2 separate regions of the Homo sapiens genome follow, and region 1 is linked to region 2. The links come from fine-mapping of genetic effects on gene expression. Tissue or cell type: esophagus muscle. Region 2 holds a variant in brackets; the other region holds the start of a gene. All regions are shown on one strand. Distances are from middle to middle.

Region 1 (8,167 bases), 46 kb after region 2:
CCCATCTCTACTAAAGATATAAAAATTAGCCGGGTGTGGTGGCACACACCTGTAATCCCGGCTACTTGGGAGGCTGAGGCAGGAGAATAGCTTGAACCCACGAGGCAGAGGTTGCAGTGAGCGGAGATCGCACCACTGCACTCCAGCCTGGGAAACTGAGCAAGACTCCGTCTCAAAAAAAAAAAAAAAAAAGGGTCCCCAGACATGCACAGCCCCAGCAGATAAAAGGGGCTGGTTTAATCTCTACTCATCCAGCATACCAACAGCTTGGGACAGGTTGCACACAGTTACCCAGATATACAAAGTAAGTGCCATTTTTCAACTGAAAGTGGCACCACGAAATTCACATTGAAATATTTATGTTAGAACAAATAAGAAAACTATATAAACAGGATAACCACTCAGAGCCCAGCTTAGCCAATGGTCACAAACAGTTACACACAACTATGGACCAGAAAGTAAAAGGACTTACCTCATCTACAGACACAGGCAGGATTACTCGACTATAAGAAAGGGAAAAGAGAGTATCAACTTTAGGCTGTGCAATCTGCTCAAGGCTCTTTAAAGCATCATCCTAAAACAGTCAGCAGCATTCTATTGTGTAAGACACTAAATTCAGTGACGAAAACCCCACAGAGAATGGCCCTTTGAGTGCTCTGAGGACAGGACCCTCTGTGCCCTAGAGGTGTAAGACACTAAACTCTGTGACAACACCCCCCCCCCGCCCCCCCCCCCAGAGAATGGCCCTCTTAGTGCTCTGAGGACAGGACCCTCTGTACCTTGAGGCATCCCAGTTAGAACCCTGTGATTCAGTCCAAACCTATCCTCCCGCCAGCTACTTCCCAGGCCTCCACCTCACATTCGGAACTGGACATATGGATGATAAACTTCACCCAAACTTGCCAATGAGTCGTCCCCCCAACAAGACTTGCCAGTGAGTCTAGTAAGACAGGTTAACACAGGAGGACCTATCATGGTGAGGATTCAGACCCAAACAAGAGGCCCTGGGGACTTAAATTTCTGTGGACCCAACCTCCCAACAACAGCCCTCCAGGGGAAGGGCCAGGAAGGGACCAAGCCCCTTGAAGCCTAAGAACACACACCGGGCATCTCTGCTCGGGGCTGGATATTACAATCCAAGCTGCTACCACAAAGCCACCAAGAGGGCATTCAACTTATGTCCTGACCTCCAGGAGCTGTCCAAAGGAATCCCAATTTATCATTTTCTTTTCTTCTTCTCCAACTCAATGACCACCAATTGCTGGAGATGCCACCAGCAACCTATTGGAGAAGCCGTGGCCGGCAAAGTCTCCGCCAGGGCCAGAACCCCACAGAGGTGCCAGGGCTAGCAGCACTTCTCCAGGTGCCGTGCATGTGAAATGCAGACCAAGAGCCACCCCCAGTTCAAAGCTGTGAGGCGGGAGAGCTAAGACAAAAACTCTTGGTTTTACCCATACAAGTCCAGCCAGTTTCCAAGCTTAGACGTTCGGTCCCCAGACCCTTGCTGGAGCCCTCTGGGTCCTTTTGTGTCTTGCATGTTTAGTGAAGCATTAGGGAAGCATGAGCTGCTGTGCCTTCCTTATGCAGCCGGCTCACCACTCAGGCTCCTTGCTCCAGGCTAGTAAACAGCTATTTTCTAGTTCCACAAAGGTCCCCCAGGAAGCAAGAAGGACACAGAGGGGTCTGAGGAAAACATCACCTCAAAGGCAAGACACCAAGCAGGAAAGTAGCAGGAAAAACAAAATGGGCTCCAAGTCTTTACTGCCTGCTAACAACTCCCTTCCTCCAGAGCAACTCAAACAACATAAATCCTCCAGTTTACTGAATGCTGCCAGTGAGCCTCCCCTCCCATTACAGAAAGCCAGTGGTGCAGAAAAATACTCCCAACTTGGAGGCCAGAATTTCTGCACCCTCAGAAGAAACTTCCTAGAAAACAATAAGCCTTTTATCTTCAAGAACAGCAGTCAAAATCACATCCAAGATTTTGCAGAAATCAAATTAAACAGAATCCTGTTAGAGGAAGTGTTGGAAAAATCAACAGGGGCAACCTGCAGACGCTGGGTGGGAACCAAGTCTCACCCCAAAAGAGAATGCCATGGGCCAATTCCTGACGGGATGCGCTGAGGCTGCTGACGTGACGGCTGCACACTCTGACACTGCCCCCTTGCTCCTTAGGAACAAAACCACTTCGGCAGCAATAGGGTACAATTCCAAAGGACAGGGCCACAGAGGAACTGCCGGGCTGGGCCTGGAGCGGCACTCACTCTAATGTGACCTTCACTCGCACCCTTTCCAGGGCTGCAACGCTGCGGCCACAGCCAGTGTCTCGGATGCCCTGATGCCCCTGCTCCTCCCCCGTCCCCCGCCCAGGGATGCACACACGGGGCACGAGTCGGGCAGGAAGGAAACGCAGATACCAGGCAGGCCCTGCATCTCCGGCACCTTGGACTTTTCCCTTGCAGGCTTCAAGGGGAGGAGAACAAAGACAGGGAAGGAGTGCCTCTCTTCAAACCTCACTCAGATCTCCTCTGAAGGTCCCTTCCTTTCCCTGCCTGACCTTCATTTCAAAACCACAGATTTCTACAGATTCTAGGGTTCATTTGGGAACAGGAAAAAGAATCAGAAGGATGGGAAAAGCCTGTCAGTCTGGACACTGAAGATTAAAATCTAAAGTGCACCACGTTCTCCTGTTGGCATCGTAAAGTTCTTCCTCCTCACCAGGAAAAGCTCCGAGCCCTGGCTGAATTAACATCAGACTGGATGTCAAGAAACAGAGGGGATGAGGCCTCAAAATAATGCTCTTCAGATGAGGTGTTTAGCTGGGATGACATGTGGGTCTCAGCTCCCTCTGTTACCCAAACTCCACTCTATGTCCTAAATGTCCTAAGCACCTCCAAGGAGCCAGCCTGGTGGGGATGGTCAAAGTGCGATCGCTGACAAAGTGGCAAGAGCTCTCTGCACACCTGCCTGGCTGCCTCACAAGTTGCTCTCTGTTTGACCATCTCCCACTCCTGGGGCTTCTGGCCCTCCCTCCAGGAAAGCAGTTTCACTGTAAATTCTGTGCACACACGCACACGCACACACACACACACACCCATCCTATCTCTCCTCTTTGGGGAGAAAAATGTCCTGTGATGCTTACTTGGAACCCTGAGCTTCAACGATGGCTCATCTTGTACTTGAAAGATTTAGCACACCAAACATCTCCACCTGTCCCCCAGTCCCCTGGATTTCAGGAGCAAACCCGTCATCCTGCAACTCCTTCCAGAAGTCACCAGTTTCCCACGCACCCCTCTTCACTACTCAAGAGCTCCCCACCCCTTCCACCATCTCTCCTCAGTTCACGGCTCCATGGACCCCTCAATTCCTCAAAGAATTTCCCCATCTCTTTGCACCAAGACTGAGAATCCCCTAGAAACAAGCTGGCCCTGCCCTGGTCTCCCCCATCTCCAACGGCAGGTATACTCATCCCAACATACTCTCTTTCCGGACCAGCCTCGACCCCGGTAACTTCCCGGCCTTCTCCACTTCGGACCCTACCCAACATTTTCTGGCCTCCTCGCCCAAGTCTCCCCACGTCCCAAGCAGTCATCCCAAGCTTGTTCCAAAAGCCTCCTCTTCCGCACCAGCTGCTTGGGCACCACGGTTACTCCGGCCCGCATCTCAGCCCCCTCTGCATGTCCTCAGACCCTTCACCTGTCTCCCCAGCCAGGCCCTGACTTCCTAGTCCTCCTCCTGTGTCCACTTACCACCACCCCTCACCCGATGCCTAAGGCGGCCACTCCTCCCCATCCCCATCCCAACTCCATCGCGGAGCCTCTGACCCATCCACCCGGCTCTCCGTGTGAACTGTTCGGCCCTCCACCTTTCCCCACCGCCGGGAGGCCCTGCCTGCCCCGGTGCGCCTCTTCCTCGGCCGCCGCGGGGCCTCTCAGCGCCGCCTGCAGTCCCGGCTGAGCCCGCGCCCTCGGCCCGCGCAGAGCGACCCCACAGCACTCCCAGCGCTCGGCGTCCCCTCGGCCTCCCCCAGTCCCGGGCCAGCTCTCCCTGCCCTGACCCCGTCTCGGGCCTGGCCTCGCCCTCGCTGTCCCCGGCCTCTCCTCGGGTCCACTTGGGCCTCCGAGGCCCCCGGGGCGCCTGAGGAGCCGTCCGCCCGGGTTGTCCCTCCGTGCCCGTGGGCCCCTCCATGCCCCGGCTGCCCGTCCATGCCCCGTGGGCCCCGGCTCAGATGCCGAACGCCCCGGCTGCCCCTCCACGCCCCGGCCGCCCCTCCACGCCCCGGCCGCCCCTCCGTGCCCCGTGGGCCCCGCCTCACGTGCCGCCCGCCCCGGATCCCCTCCATCCCCGCTGGGCCCGCCTCAGGCACCCTCCGTCCCTGCTGCCCCTCCGTCCATCCGGGCCCTGCGTCCCTCGCCGCGCCGTCGCCCCGGCGGCCGTCCCCACCCTCCCTCCTCCCCGCTTCCGCACGGCCGCCGGACACTCACTACTCCTTGAGCAGCACCATGTCGCTTCGCGGCTCGGTGGCTGCCCGCGGCCCGCCCGGCCTCCCGCCCGCTGCCCGCCGGCCGCTCTCCCCGTGGCCCGGCCCGGCCCGGCTGCCTGTGCGTCTTCGTCGTGCTCTGCTCCGTCCCCGCCGCCCTCGCCGCGGTCGCCGCGCCGGCTCCTGCCGCCCGGGCCTCGTCGCCTCTCGCGCCGCTGCCGACGCCGCCCGGAGCTCCGGTTCCGCAGCGCCGCGCGGGGGCGGGGCGTCTCTGCGGCAACCAGAGCGTCACACGCCGCGGTGCGCGCTGACGTCACGCGGGGCCGAGCCTTCCCAGGCCCGCCCTCCCGTCCTTAAGTGGGCCGCGGCGGCGCTGTCGGTTCCGAGGTGGGGCCCCGCGGCTGGGGCCAGACCCGGCAGAAGGCGGAGCAGACTAGGGTGTCCGTCACCGTCCTCGGTGTGAACCGCCACGGATGCACGCGGGTGCTGGCTGGGGGGCCTCCCCGGTTGAGGGAATTGAGACCCAGGAAAAGGTTGTTTCAAAAAATATTAATAGCCGCGCGCGGTGGCCCACGCCTGTAATCCTTGCACCTTGGGAGGCCGAGGCGGGCGGATCACCTGAGGTCAGGAGTTCGAGACCAGCCTGGCCAACATGATGAAACCCCGTCTCTACTAAAAATACAAAAATTAGCTGGGCGTGGAGGCACGCACCTGTAATCCCAGCTACACGGGAGGCTGAGGCGGGAGAATCGCTTGTACCGGGAGGCAGAGTTTGCAGTGAGCCGAGATCGCGATCGCGCCATTGCACTCCAGCCTGGGGGACAAGAGTGAAACTTCGTCTCAAAAAAAAAAAAAAGAAAAGAAAAGGGCTGTGAGGCCGGGCGCGGTGGCTCCTGGCAGTAATCCCAGGCACATCATGCCTGTAATGCAGCACTCAGGCGGGCGCATCACCTGAGGTCAGGAGTTCCAGACCAGATGGCGAAACCCCATCTCTACTAAAAGTACAAAAATTAGCCGGGCGTGGTGGTGGACGTGGTGGTGGTAGTCCCAGCTGCTCGGGAGGATGAGGCAGGAGAATCGCTTGAACCCTGGAGGCGGAGGTTGCAGTGAGCCGAGATCGCACCATTGCACTCCAGCTGGGGCGACAGAGCGAGACTCTGCATCAAAAAAAAAAAAAAAAAAAAGAATGAAAAGGGCTGTGAGAAATGAGACACAGGCTTAGCGGCATTACACGGAGGGGCACCTAATTGAGCGTCAGGGATGTAGTCAGGGAAGGCTTCCTGGAGGAAGAGATTCTCAGATCTGCAGAGGGCTTCGGAGAAGAGCATAGCAGGCAGAGTGAATGCAAAGGCTGGAGGCAAGAGGGAGAGCATGGTGCATTTGGAGAACTGACAAGTGAGTGGAACAGAACATTTCAGGGCTGAGCAGCTCAATAGGGGAGGGTTCCTGGTGAACGATGATAAGGTATTTGGAGTCCACCCTAAGGGCGGTGGGAGGGCATGTAAGGGCTCTGAGCAGTGACATGAGCGGGTGTCCTGGGCGAAGGCTCACTCTAGTGGTTGGGTGGACAGAGGGGATGGAATGCCAGAGCGTAGGCAGGGAGACCGGCGAGGAGGCTGCTGCAGATGTCCAGGTGCAGGTGGACTAGGACAGTGGGAGGGAAGAAAAGGAAGGGATGGATTCAGGAGCAACTCAGAAGGTAAACTCCGTGAGACTTGTTGACTCATTGGCTGAGAGGAGGAGAGAAAAGCAGCGAGGTCTCTGGCCTGGGAGCCGGGGTGGACGGTACTGTCTTCTCTGAGAACACAGGCAAGACAGGCTGGCATGGGGGCAGGTAATGACTCCAGTGCTGGACTCACACTCAGCGCAGGACGCTAGAGGGGCATCCAGGGGAGATGGGAGTGGGCTGCCTAAGACAGGGACTTGGGAAGGGAGGGTGGAGCAGCTGGCCGTGTTGCTATCAGGATGTGACTGGCGGCCCGCGACTGCCCTGAGCACTGTGCTCACTTATCAGATCCTAGAGTGGGGGCCAGGCTGAGTGCCTCACACCTGGATTCCCAGCACTTTGGGAGGCTGGGGCGGGCGAATCACTTGAGGCCAGGAGTTCAAGACCAGCCTGGCCAACATGGTAAAACCCCATCTCTACTAAAACAAAAATTAGCTCAGTGTGGTGGCATGTGCCTGTCGTCTCAGTTACTCGGGAGGCTGAGGTAGGAGAATCGCTTGAGCCCTGGAGGCAGAGGTTGCAGTGAGCCGAGATCATGCCACCGCACTCCAGCCTGGGCGACAGAGCAAGATTCTGTCTCAAAAAAACAAGCCGACCACTATTCACAATAGCAAAGACTTGGAACCAACCCAAATGCCCATCAATGACAGACTGGATAAAGAAAATGTGGCACAGCCGGGCGCGGTGGCTCACTCCTATAATCCTACCACTTTGGGAGGCTGAGGCGGGCGGATCATCAGGTCAAGAGATCAAGACCATCCTGGCTGAAATGGTGAAACCCTGTCTCTACTAAAAATACAAAAATTAGCTGGGTGTGGTGGCACGCGCCTGTAGTCCCAGCTACTCGGGAGGCTGAGGCAGGAGGATCACTTGAATGCAGGAGGATCACTTGAATTCAGGAGGCAGAGGTTGCAGCGAGCCAAGATCGTGTCACTGCGCTCCAGCCTGGCGAGAGTTAGACTCTGTCTCAAAAAAAAAAAAGTCTCAGATAATGTGGCACATATACACCATGGAATACTATGCAGCCATAAAAAAGGATGAGTTAATATCCTTTGTAAGGACATGGATGAATCTGGAAACCATCATTCTCAGCAAACTATAGCAAGGACAGAAAACCAAACACTGCATGTTCTCATTCATAGGTGGGAATTGAACAATGAGAATACTTAGACACAGGAAGGGGAACATCACACTCTGGGGCCTGTTGTGGGACGGGGGGAGGGGGAGGGATAGCATTAGGAGATATTCCTAATGTAAATGACTAGTTAATGGGTGCAGCACACCAACATGGCACATGTATACATATGTAACAAGCCTGCACGTTGTGCACATGTACCCTAGAACTTAAGTATAATAAGAAAATAAAATTAAATTTAAATTAAAATAAAAAAAAACAAGCCGACCTTGGACATCATGTCATCTCACCCCTCCAGGTTACAGTGCACATTCTAGAAATATGCACATTTCTTACAAATGCATAATGCCATTGTCATACTTAACAAAATTAATAATGATTTCCTGATGCTATCTCATCCCCAGTTCATATTCTAATTTCCCTGCTAATCTAAAAAATGCTATAGTTTCCTTTAGAGAAGTTCAGTATCCAGGCAAGGTCCATGTATTTTTTTTTTTCACACTTTATTTTGAGTTACGTTTTTTACATCTTTTTCAATAGCAAGTTTGCTGCAGATGTCCATACGGGTTAGACGCAGGGGTCACACCACTCTCCAGCTGTGCCACACTGTGAGCCAACAGCCCCACCCAGGACACAGACTTCCGCTGCCTTGGAGTCCCAGGCCTCCACTTCCTACCTCTGTGACCTTGTGCAAGTGACTTAACCTCTCTGTATCTCAGTTTCTTCACTTGGGAAATAGGGAACATGCCGGTACCTGCGTCATGGGGCTGCTGAGCCTCCTTGGATGAGGCAATGGACATGAAGCAGCTTTCTGCAGTGAGTGGCA
Region 2 (8,179 bases):
AACTAGGCTGACAGAATCCATTCTGAAGAACAAGAGTCATCCAGGAAGGGGAAAGAGGGAATTCTGGTATTTCTAAGCAGCTGTATACCAGGTGCTGTGAATGGGAGTGTGTTTCATTCCTCAGGTGTGCAGGGCAGAACCAAGGTGAAGGTGAAGATCTGGCAACCCAGGGCCTTCCTGTGGACTCTCCTACTGTCTAAAGACACCCCAGAGTATACTGGTCTCTCAGACTAAGAAAGCCGCCCAAAGTACCCACCACACCTGACTCCCCTCTCCTAACCTCTGGACCCCCAGAATCTGAAGTGCACGTCCCGTATGACCTGAGGATACCCTATGACACCAGCAGGCTAGCCACGCCTAAGATCTGTCAGTCTTAGAGTTCACCAGCATAGCAATAAGGTATTAGTAGTTAAGAACTTGGGTTATGAAGTTTGAGAGATCTGGATCCAAATCCCAGATAGCGCATGTGGCTTCTGAGCCATGGTTTTCTCTGTAAAATATCTCTATTTCAACAGACTTGTTAAGATTTTAAAATAACATATATACTATAAAGAGCTACTTATGATGTGTAACAACAAGTAAGCACTTGATAAATGACAGCCGTATGATTACACTCAGAGACTTCAGGATGGGCATTTGAGTAGAGACTGGTGGCTGGGGCAGCGGCCAGCACTGAGGTGATGACAAGCCCTGCTGCACCTCCCCTCAGAATCTTCCCAAGCTGAAACATATCCAGGTGTTAACCCAACCCCTGGAGACTCCAGCTCCCTCAGAAAGGCGAAGGCAGGCAGGGGCCCCGGGGTCCAGGTGGAAGGGAGGTTTAGCCCTTTAAACAAATGGGAAACAGCATGAAAGGCTGAGCAGGAGTAAGAGGAACACATCAGACCCAACAAGCAGGGGTCAGTGGAGATGTGAAAACACAGTTGTCAAGTGCCAATGAACTGGCAAGTTACCTTGATGAAGCTCAGAGGGGAAAGCACATCCATGAGGAAACTGCTCCACGAGTCATTAAAGGCAGCATCGGAAAGGAGGCTTATGATCCCAGAGTTCAATTCCTGCAAACTGACCATGCCAGCTCAGAGGCTTGGCCCCTGGCCTCCAGGCTACTTCCCCTGCCACAGATATTTGATACCATCTTCACGGACTTTCAAGGCCTGAGTTCTGATGGCCATGAGGTCTCCCTCCCCTGCCTGCTGATCTCCAGCCCCCTTTGCCGTTGCTGACCCGGGACCAGAGACATGGGACTGTCCCTGAAGCAGGCTGAAAGCTCCCAGCCTTCAGACTCCAGAGCGGAGGAGGGCAGGTCACAGTGCTTCCCACAGGGAAACCTGGGACTGGTCAGGGATGGGCGAAGGAGCCTGCAGATACCTACCCAATAACATATATGTCAAGATTGAGGTTCCGGTTGTTCAGCTGAAGCAGGTCACTGAGATCTAGAGGGGGCGCTGCCGAAGCCACGTTCCAAGTCACGACGTGTATGCTGCGGAAGGGATGCAGAGGGAAGTCATGGAGGAAGGAGGATAAGATAGTGCACGGGGTCGGCTGGGCGCAGAGGCTCACACGTTGTCATCACAGCACTTTGGGCGGCCGAGGTGGGCGGATCACCTGAGGTCGGGAGTTCGAGACAAGCCTGGCCAACATGGTGAAACCCCGTCTCTACTAAAAGTACAAAAATTAGCCCAGCATGGTGGCAGGCGCCTGTAATCCCAGCTACTCTGGAGGCTGAGGCAGGAGAATTGCTTGAACCCACGAGGCAGAGGTTGCAGTGAGCCGACATTGTGCCACTGCACTCCAGCCTGGGTGACAGAGTGAGACTCTGTCTCAAAAGAAAAAAAAAAAAGATAGTGCACGGGGTCTAGGCCTGCTTATGTCACTGCAATCTGCCACACTCATGATGGGAAATGTGGGTTTCTGTGCTGGTGGAGGGAATGGGGATACTGAACCATCAGCTGTCCGTCCTCACCTTTCTCTGCTGAAGCAAGAAATCCCCACCCCGGACTGGGTCCTCCATGCTGGCTCACAGCCACCCACACCCGGCAGCACTGGTGCTGCTGATATAGCAGAGTCGCCAAAGGGAGCCCAAGAATTTCAGGTCAGGCTAGCGAAGGGTTAGGGGGCTGAACTGCCAGGAATGTATTAATTCCATCAGCTCCTCCAGCCACCCACACCCCTCTGTCATCATCTATGGCTCAGTCGGCAACTTCTGATCCCTACTTCTCACCCCAAGTGTTCCTAAGACCACCAGGAAGATCCTAGGGATTCAGATTTCACCTTGTGATAGGCCTCAGCACTACAAGGGCAGAGGAATTTAAAAAATAAAAGAGATAACACCACCATATTCCCTTCCTCTCTCCTCCCTAGCAGATCCCTGGAGCAAGCCAATTTTGCCAAGCACTTCAGCGAGACTTTTTTTTTTTTTTTTTTTGAGACTGAGTCTCACTCTGTTGCCCAGGCTGGAGTGGACTGGGATGATCTCGGCTCATCGCAGCCTCCGCCTCCCAGGTTCCAGCAGTTCTCCTGCCTCAACCTCCCAAGTAGCTGGGATTACAGGTGTGTGCCACCACATCTGGCTAACTTTTGTATTTTTAGTAGAGACGGGGTTTCACCATGTTGGCCAGGCTGGTCCTGAACTCCTGATCTCTCAGGTGATCCGCCCGCCTCAGCCTCCCAAAGTGCTGGGATTACAGGCCTGAGCCACCGCGCCCGGCCAAGGAGTTTTTAAGTAACAGGTTTCTCGACATCTCTCTTAAGAGTCTATGCTCTATGTCTGCGTAGTATTCCGTGAAAAATAAAGAGTACTCTCTGGGGAAAAGTCATCAGTTGGATATTTTCCACCTCAGCTTACAAGTCTTAGGGAAGCAAGAAAACTAGATAAGGGGCCTCAATGACACTGGATCCAGTCAGAGGCTCAGGAAAGAGAGACCTACAGATGTCTTTAGTGGAACAGTCAGTCACAGCAGCTCTTCAAGAAGCCTCAGACTGTGCGGAGCACAGAGCGGGCAGGAGCTACAGACCCTGCAGAGACCAGGAACAGCCTAGCATGAGTCCTAGGCACACGATGAGGAGTACCTGCAGCAGCTGGAGATCTGGAATGGCAGAGGGTACAGGGGGATGGGAGAAAAGGGCAGTTAATGCCAAAACATCTCTCCTCCAACAGACCCCGTCCTTAGAGGTCGACGTTCTCAAAAGCACTTCAAGAAATTCTTGGCCAGTTTAAAGCAACTTCCTGTCCCTCCCTGTTAGCATAAACAACACTATACAGAAACCACCTTCCCAGGCACTCGGCCTGAGATTTTGAGCTTCATTTGTTTACGATCTCCCCCTGCTGTCCGACAGAGGCTTAAGGAACAAAGACCTTTTACTCAGAGACTTCTTTTCCCAGACTCACTCTAAGAGGATGGAGAGCAAAAGTCCGGATTTCTTGTTCCCACTCTCAAATCCGACGATTAGCAGCAAATCCAAGCATCGTGACTTAGACTAAGTGGGCGATTAGCGTTGTTCCCCGTGAAAGAGCAGGCAAGAGACCAGGCTAAGTCACTTCCCTAAAGGATCTTATCTCAATCTGATTTCGGATTCCCGGGGTTCACCATGGGATCAGGCAGACCTCCTGA[T/A]GTATGTGCTGATGAAAAGTAGGAAAAAGATTTCTAACCGAGAGCCGAAGGGTGACGGCCTCGTTATGTCTTTAACCTCAAACAACCCCACACGGCTGTCCTCTCCAGAAAGCAACCGGGACACCTGCTGCGCCCCAGTGGGAACGAGCTTGGCGGCCTCGGCTTAGAGGGGGCGCGAGGCTCGGGCCCAACACAGCCCACCTGACACAGGCGTGGGAGAAGGCGAGAGCGCCTCTGAACCAAAGGCAGTCATGGAGGTCTGGTGCCTTGTCCACCCCCAGCCCGCAGCCCAAGGGGCGCCGATCCCCCCGAGCAGGCCTGCCTCTGCCGCCAGGGTGCCCTCACCTGAGCCTCCTGCCTTTCGGCCCGCTCAGCTTCCGCGAGCTCATGGCCGCCGTCGTCCCCGCGCGGTGGTCCGGCAGGTTCGCGTCTCCCGGCCAGCGGGTCCCGGCCAGAGCAGCCCTGCGGGCGGCCGGTCTCACGCGCCTAGCTGTCGCGGACTGTTTTTCTTCCGGACTCCGACCGTCCGCCCCGGCTTCCGTCAGAGACGCGCCCTCCGCGCACCCCGGGATCTGGGTGGTGCGGTTCGCAGAAGGAGGCGGGACTCTCCCACGAGCGCAAAGCTGCGAGAGGCTGAGCGAAGACGGGTTCGCGGACGTAAGAGGGGCGTGTCGGGCCTGTCATCAGCGCACGCGCAACACTGCCCCAGACGACGCGAGGTGTGCGGCCGCCACTAGACCCGGCCCAGCCCGCGCCCGCCGTCCGCAGCTCCCAGCGTGCCCCGCGCCAGGGGCCGTCTTCCGGCGGAAGTTGTCTCTTCGCCGCCGCCGCAGCCTCTGCCCCACTCGTGAGGGATCCGAGGGCTCCGTCCTTGTGCTGTCTTCGCCCCGGCTCCCAGGGGTCAAACGAGGGTCGGGGGTGGGGACACGCAGCCTAGCCACTGTCCTGCCTGGGATCCGGTCTCCCCCGCCCCCCGGCTGCAGGTAATCTCCCCATTCCTGCTACTGCGGGAGCGCCTCCGTTCTCCACGCCCACTTTCAGGCTTCTACTCCAAACTTATTGGATTACCTATTGCATATGGGACGTTTGGGGATTCCTGGACTCCTACAGAATTAGCCGTCAATAAATGAAACGTAGGCCGGGGCGCGGTGGCTCAATGCCTGTAATCCCAGCACTTTGGGAGGCCGAGGCGGGCGGCTCACTTGAGGTCAGGAGTTTAAGACCAGCCTGGCCTTAACATGGTGAAACCCCGTCTCTGCTAAAAACACAAAAGCTAGCTGGGCTTGATAGCGCGCGCCTGTTAATCCCAGCTACTCGGGAGGCTGAGGCAGGAGAATCGCCTGAACCCGGGAGGTGGAGGTTGCAGTGAGCCGAGATTGCGCCACTGCACCCCAGCCTGCGCGACAGAGCGAGACTTCGTTTCAAAAAAAAAAAATAATAATAATAATTAGCCGAGATGGGGTTTCGCCATGTTGGTCAGGCTGGTCTCGAACTCCTGACCTCAGCTGATCCACCCGCCTCGGCCTCCCAGAGTGCTGCGATTTCAGGTGTGAGCCACCGCGCCCGGCCTAAAACTACTTTAAATAAATGTTTTGCTTGTTTGGTAGGGTGGATAAAGAGGAAGATGTGAAGAGGAGGCAGACAAAAGCAAAAGGACATCCTGTCAGTAGGAAACGGCCGAATTACAATTCAGATGTGCAATGTTTGCATAAGTAAACTGACACGGGACTATTATATGCAGAAATCCACGTGCAAAAATTTTCAGACACACCTTTGTACCTCTTCCTAATCCTGCCCTGGTAAAATGGCGGTTATCAGTGCAAGTTTGAGGATACATACAGCTGGAAAATGGACATCACCAAACTGGACTCCAGAAAGTTCTGTCTAGGATTTTATTAGACTGCTTTTTTTCTCAATATACCTGTATTGGAAGATTGAGACAAAAAGGCACAAACTCACATTAAATAAACAAGGTAATCTAATCAATTCTACAAAGTGTAGTTTGTAAAACAAGTAGCACTAGGAACCAACCAAAGTAAGTCAGGGAGTCCCAGCAGGGACTGTAAAAGAACTTGGGAAGCTATACACATGCCCACGATACTGACCCTGTCCCGGACCTCTCTGCATGAGAAGGCCAGAGCCCAGCACCCCTCCTACAGAGGCACTGCTGCTTCTGTTGGGGCTGTGACCCTGGAATTCTGATGGAAGCAGCTGGTCTGAAGGGGCATGGCACACACTCAGGTACTACCCCTGGAGCTGAACCTTTATCATAAGTCCCTCTGAGTGCTAGTCAGTTTGGAGGTGGGTGAGGAGGAAAGGGGGTACTTAAAAGAAGCCAACACTGTTGCCCAGCAGCAACACCATCCGTGGGGATGGAACAGACCAGGGACATCCTCCTTTATGTTTATGTGGGCTGCAATTCCAGATCCAGGCTGACCTCAGCTCATAATGGATGCTTTTCAACTGGGGCAACAGGTGGAGGTGGGAGGAGCCCTTGTTAGGGCTAAAGTGATATGTGTGGGTCTCAAGAGCCAAAGGAAGGAGACTAACAGCTGCTGACCCTCAGACCACATAGACAACTGTCTGCCTAGAATGTCAGTTTGTTTCTTTCAAGATAACCCGCATCTGGACTTCCCCTAGTTGATGAATGAAGGAACATCTTTAAGCACAAATATAATGAATAGCTAACACAGAGCTTATAGGAAAACACTGACATTTTTCTCCAGTAGGAATGCCTCTTCTCCAACTTTCCAAGTCAGATAAATGCTACCAGCAGTTGAGATGCTACCCAGATGCATTACTAAAGACCCCTCAAGGTGAGGAGACTTACACAGAGGAAGGTGTCTGTAACAAGACATCTGGTTCCAAAGGGACCTCAATGAAGGTCAGCGCTAACCATGCTGGGGGTCTGAGTCTGTCCACCCTTGCCCCAGGAGGGCCACAGGGAAGCATCCATCAGGATGTCACAGGTGCAATCCTGTGAGACACTCCCTTATTGCACTTAGAAATGAGTAAGGCAAACAAACTGACAAAAACAGGATACATTCTCCCACCCACTTCTTGCTTCCCGGACAAAGATTTGGTCTCCCATTAGCAGATGCACCCAGGCTAGTGTGGGCTGGGATCACGGCACACTTAGGCCAACGTGCTTCACAAGGTTTGGGGAATGTCAGGTGACACTACAGCTCTCTCTCATTCTCCCACTAAGAGGCAAACTCAGGCTCTGTCAAGTTGCAGGAAGCTATGAACACTGGGCAGCGTCTGTTCCCCTGGAGCCTGGACTTCCTCACCAGCCTACTTTGGTCGGGTTCTGTACTATGATCACTACTTGCTTTGGGTTTTCCAGGGCAGAACTCAACATGGGGGTAGGACGAGCTAAGTTCTTGATCCCCAAATTCCTTTCCGGCAACTGGAGACGAGGGAACATGTTCTGCTGGAAAAAGCTTTTTGCATGCTCATATTGTGCAGCATGAAAGATCAGGACTCTTGCTTCCTAACCAGCCTCAAAGACAGAGGACAGGGACCTAAGAAAGCACAGAGAAAAGAGGATTATTGCTGAGTGGCAGCACCAGCCCCAAAGGGAAGAGGAGGAGCAGGGACTTACAGAGCTCCTCGGGGTCAGACAGTTGGTATCTAGGGGGTGACTCAATTCTAGGGGCCACACTGGACAATTCCCTCCAAGTGGAGAGTTGACTGGGGCGATTTTGTAGACTGCAGAGAGATTCAGAGCGGGCAACAGGAGGGCCAAGAAGCCACAGGTGTTTCTAAGAGTAGTAACTAGAGATTCAGTGATTGGGACAGGGTTACTCGTATTTGTTAAATTTTCTTAAATAGAGACTGGCTGAGCCTTGGGTACCTCCATAGTGCTAGAGTGCCCTAACGATGGGTTACTGGGAGCAGAAGTCAGAGCTGCAAAACCACATTGCTATTTTGTGGAAGCGGTGCGGGGCAGGGAAACATTGTATCTTTAGCTCATCCCCGCTCCCCACAGGAGCACTCAAAATTGCGAAGATCTTCCCAGGAAGCAAAATACCTCAGTTTACCCCAAGGTTGAGAACAAATGAACTTAAATCATTTAAATCACCACATCACAAAAGGCAGCTATTTGAAAGACTGAAAATGTCACTTGGAAATAAAGGTTGGGGGAACACACAGAAATGGATCGGAACACAATGGAGAGAGACGGAGGCGCTGTAACTACAGCAACCTACACGCCACGTATCTCGGAGGAGCAGGCTCCTGCACACGCGGGCTCTGTGACACCAGACGGTCTATTTGTTCACAATACTGAAGGGCATCTAGAATTAGCTACAGTAAGGAATCGAAAGTTGCCTGAAGAATGGGCACAGAACGGCTGCGTCCGAAAATGGCCTGTCACTTGGGAGGGTGGAGCTGCTGGGTCTTCCTGTTGACCACTGTCTTGCAAAACTAGAAGAAAAATGAAAGTATTAAGGAAGCAAGAGGAGAAAACAGAAACACTGTAAATCGTCCTGAATGGATAATTTCAAGAGGAGGAGGGAAGCCAGTGGGTGGGTGGGGAAGGGAGTGGGGGAGAGCACTGAGGCCCA

What was found. PIP is the estimated chance that this variant, and not a neighbour inherited with it, causes the effect.
Region 1: it holds the start of PITPNA, and the variant in region 2 is fine-mapped to the expression of PITPNA in esophagus muscle (GTEx, PIP 0.93).

Annotation. Positions count from the first base shown.
Region 1 is chr17:1,558,057-1,566,223 of GRCh38, forward strand. It overlaps PITPNA (phosphatidylinositol transfer protein alpha), which reads right to left and starts at 4,736. Exons shown (of 12, transcript NM_006224.4): 1 at 4,485-4,736; 2 at 473-503. The coding sequence starts at 4,504. RefSeq lists enhancers at 1,808-2,774, 3,689-3,788, 4,557-5,056 and silencers at 3,899-4,028, 4,509-4,558, 4,629-4,908.
Region 2 is chr17:1,512,500-1,520,678 of GRCh38, forward strand. INPP5K (inositol polyphosphate-5-phosphatase K) reads right to left here and starts at 4,113. Exons shown (of 12, transcript NM_016532.4): 1 at 3,957-4,113; 2 at 1,373-1,480; 3 at 954-1,062. The coding sequence starts at 4,000. It overlaps PITPNA (phosphatidylinositol transfer protein alpha), which reads right to left. Exons shown (of 12, transcript NM_006224.4): 12 at 5,219-8,039. It overlaps PITPNA-AS1 (PITPNA antisense RNA 1), which reads left to right and starts at 4,420. Exons shown (of 2, transcript NR_028514.1): 1 at 4,420-4,594; 2 at 5,219-5,597. RefSeq lists a silencer at 4,199-4,498. The variant T/A (reference allele first, on the strand shown) is at 3,612.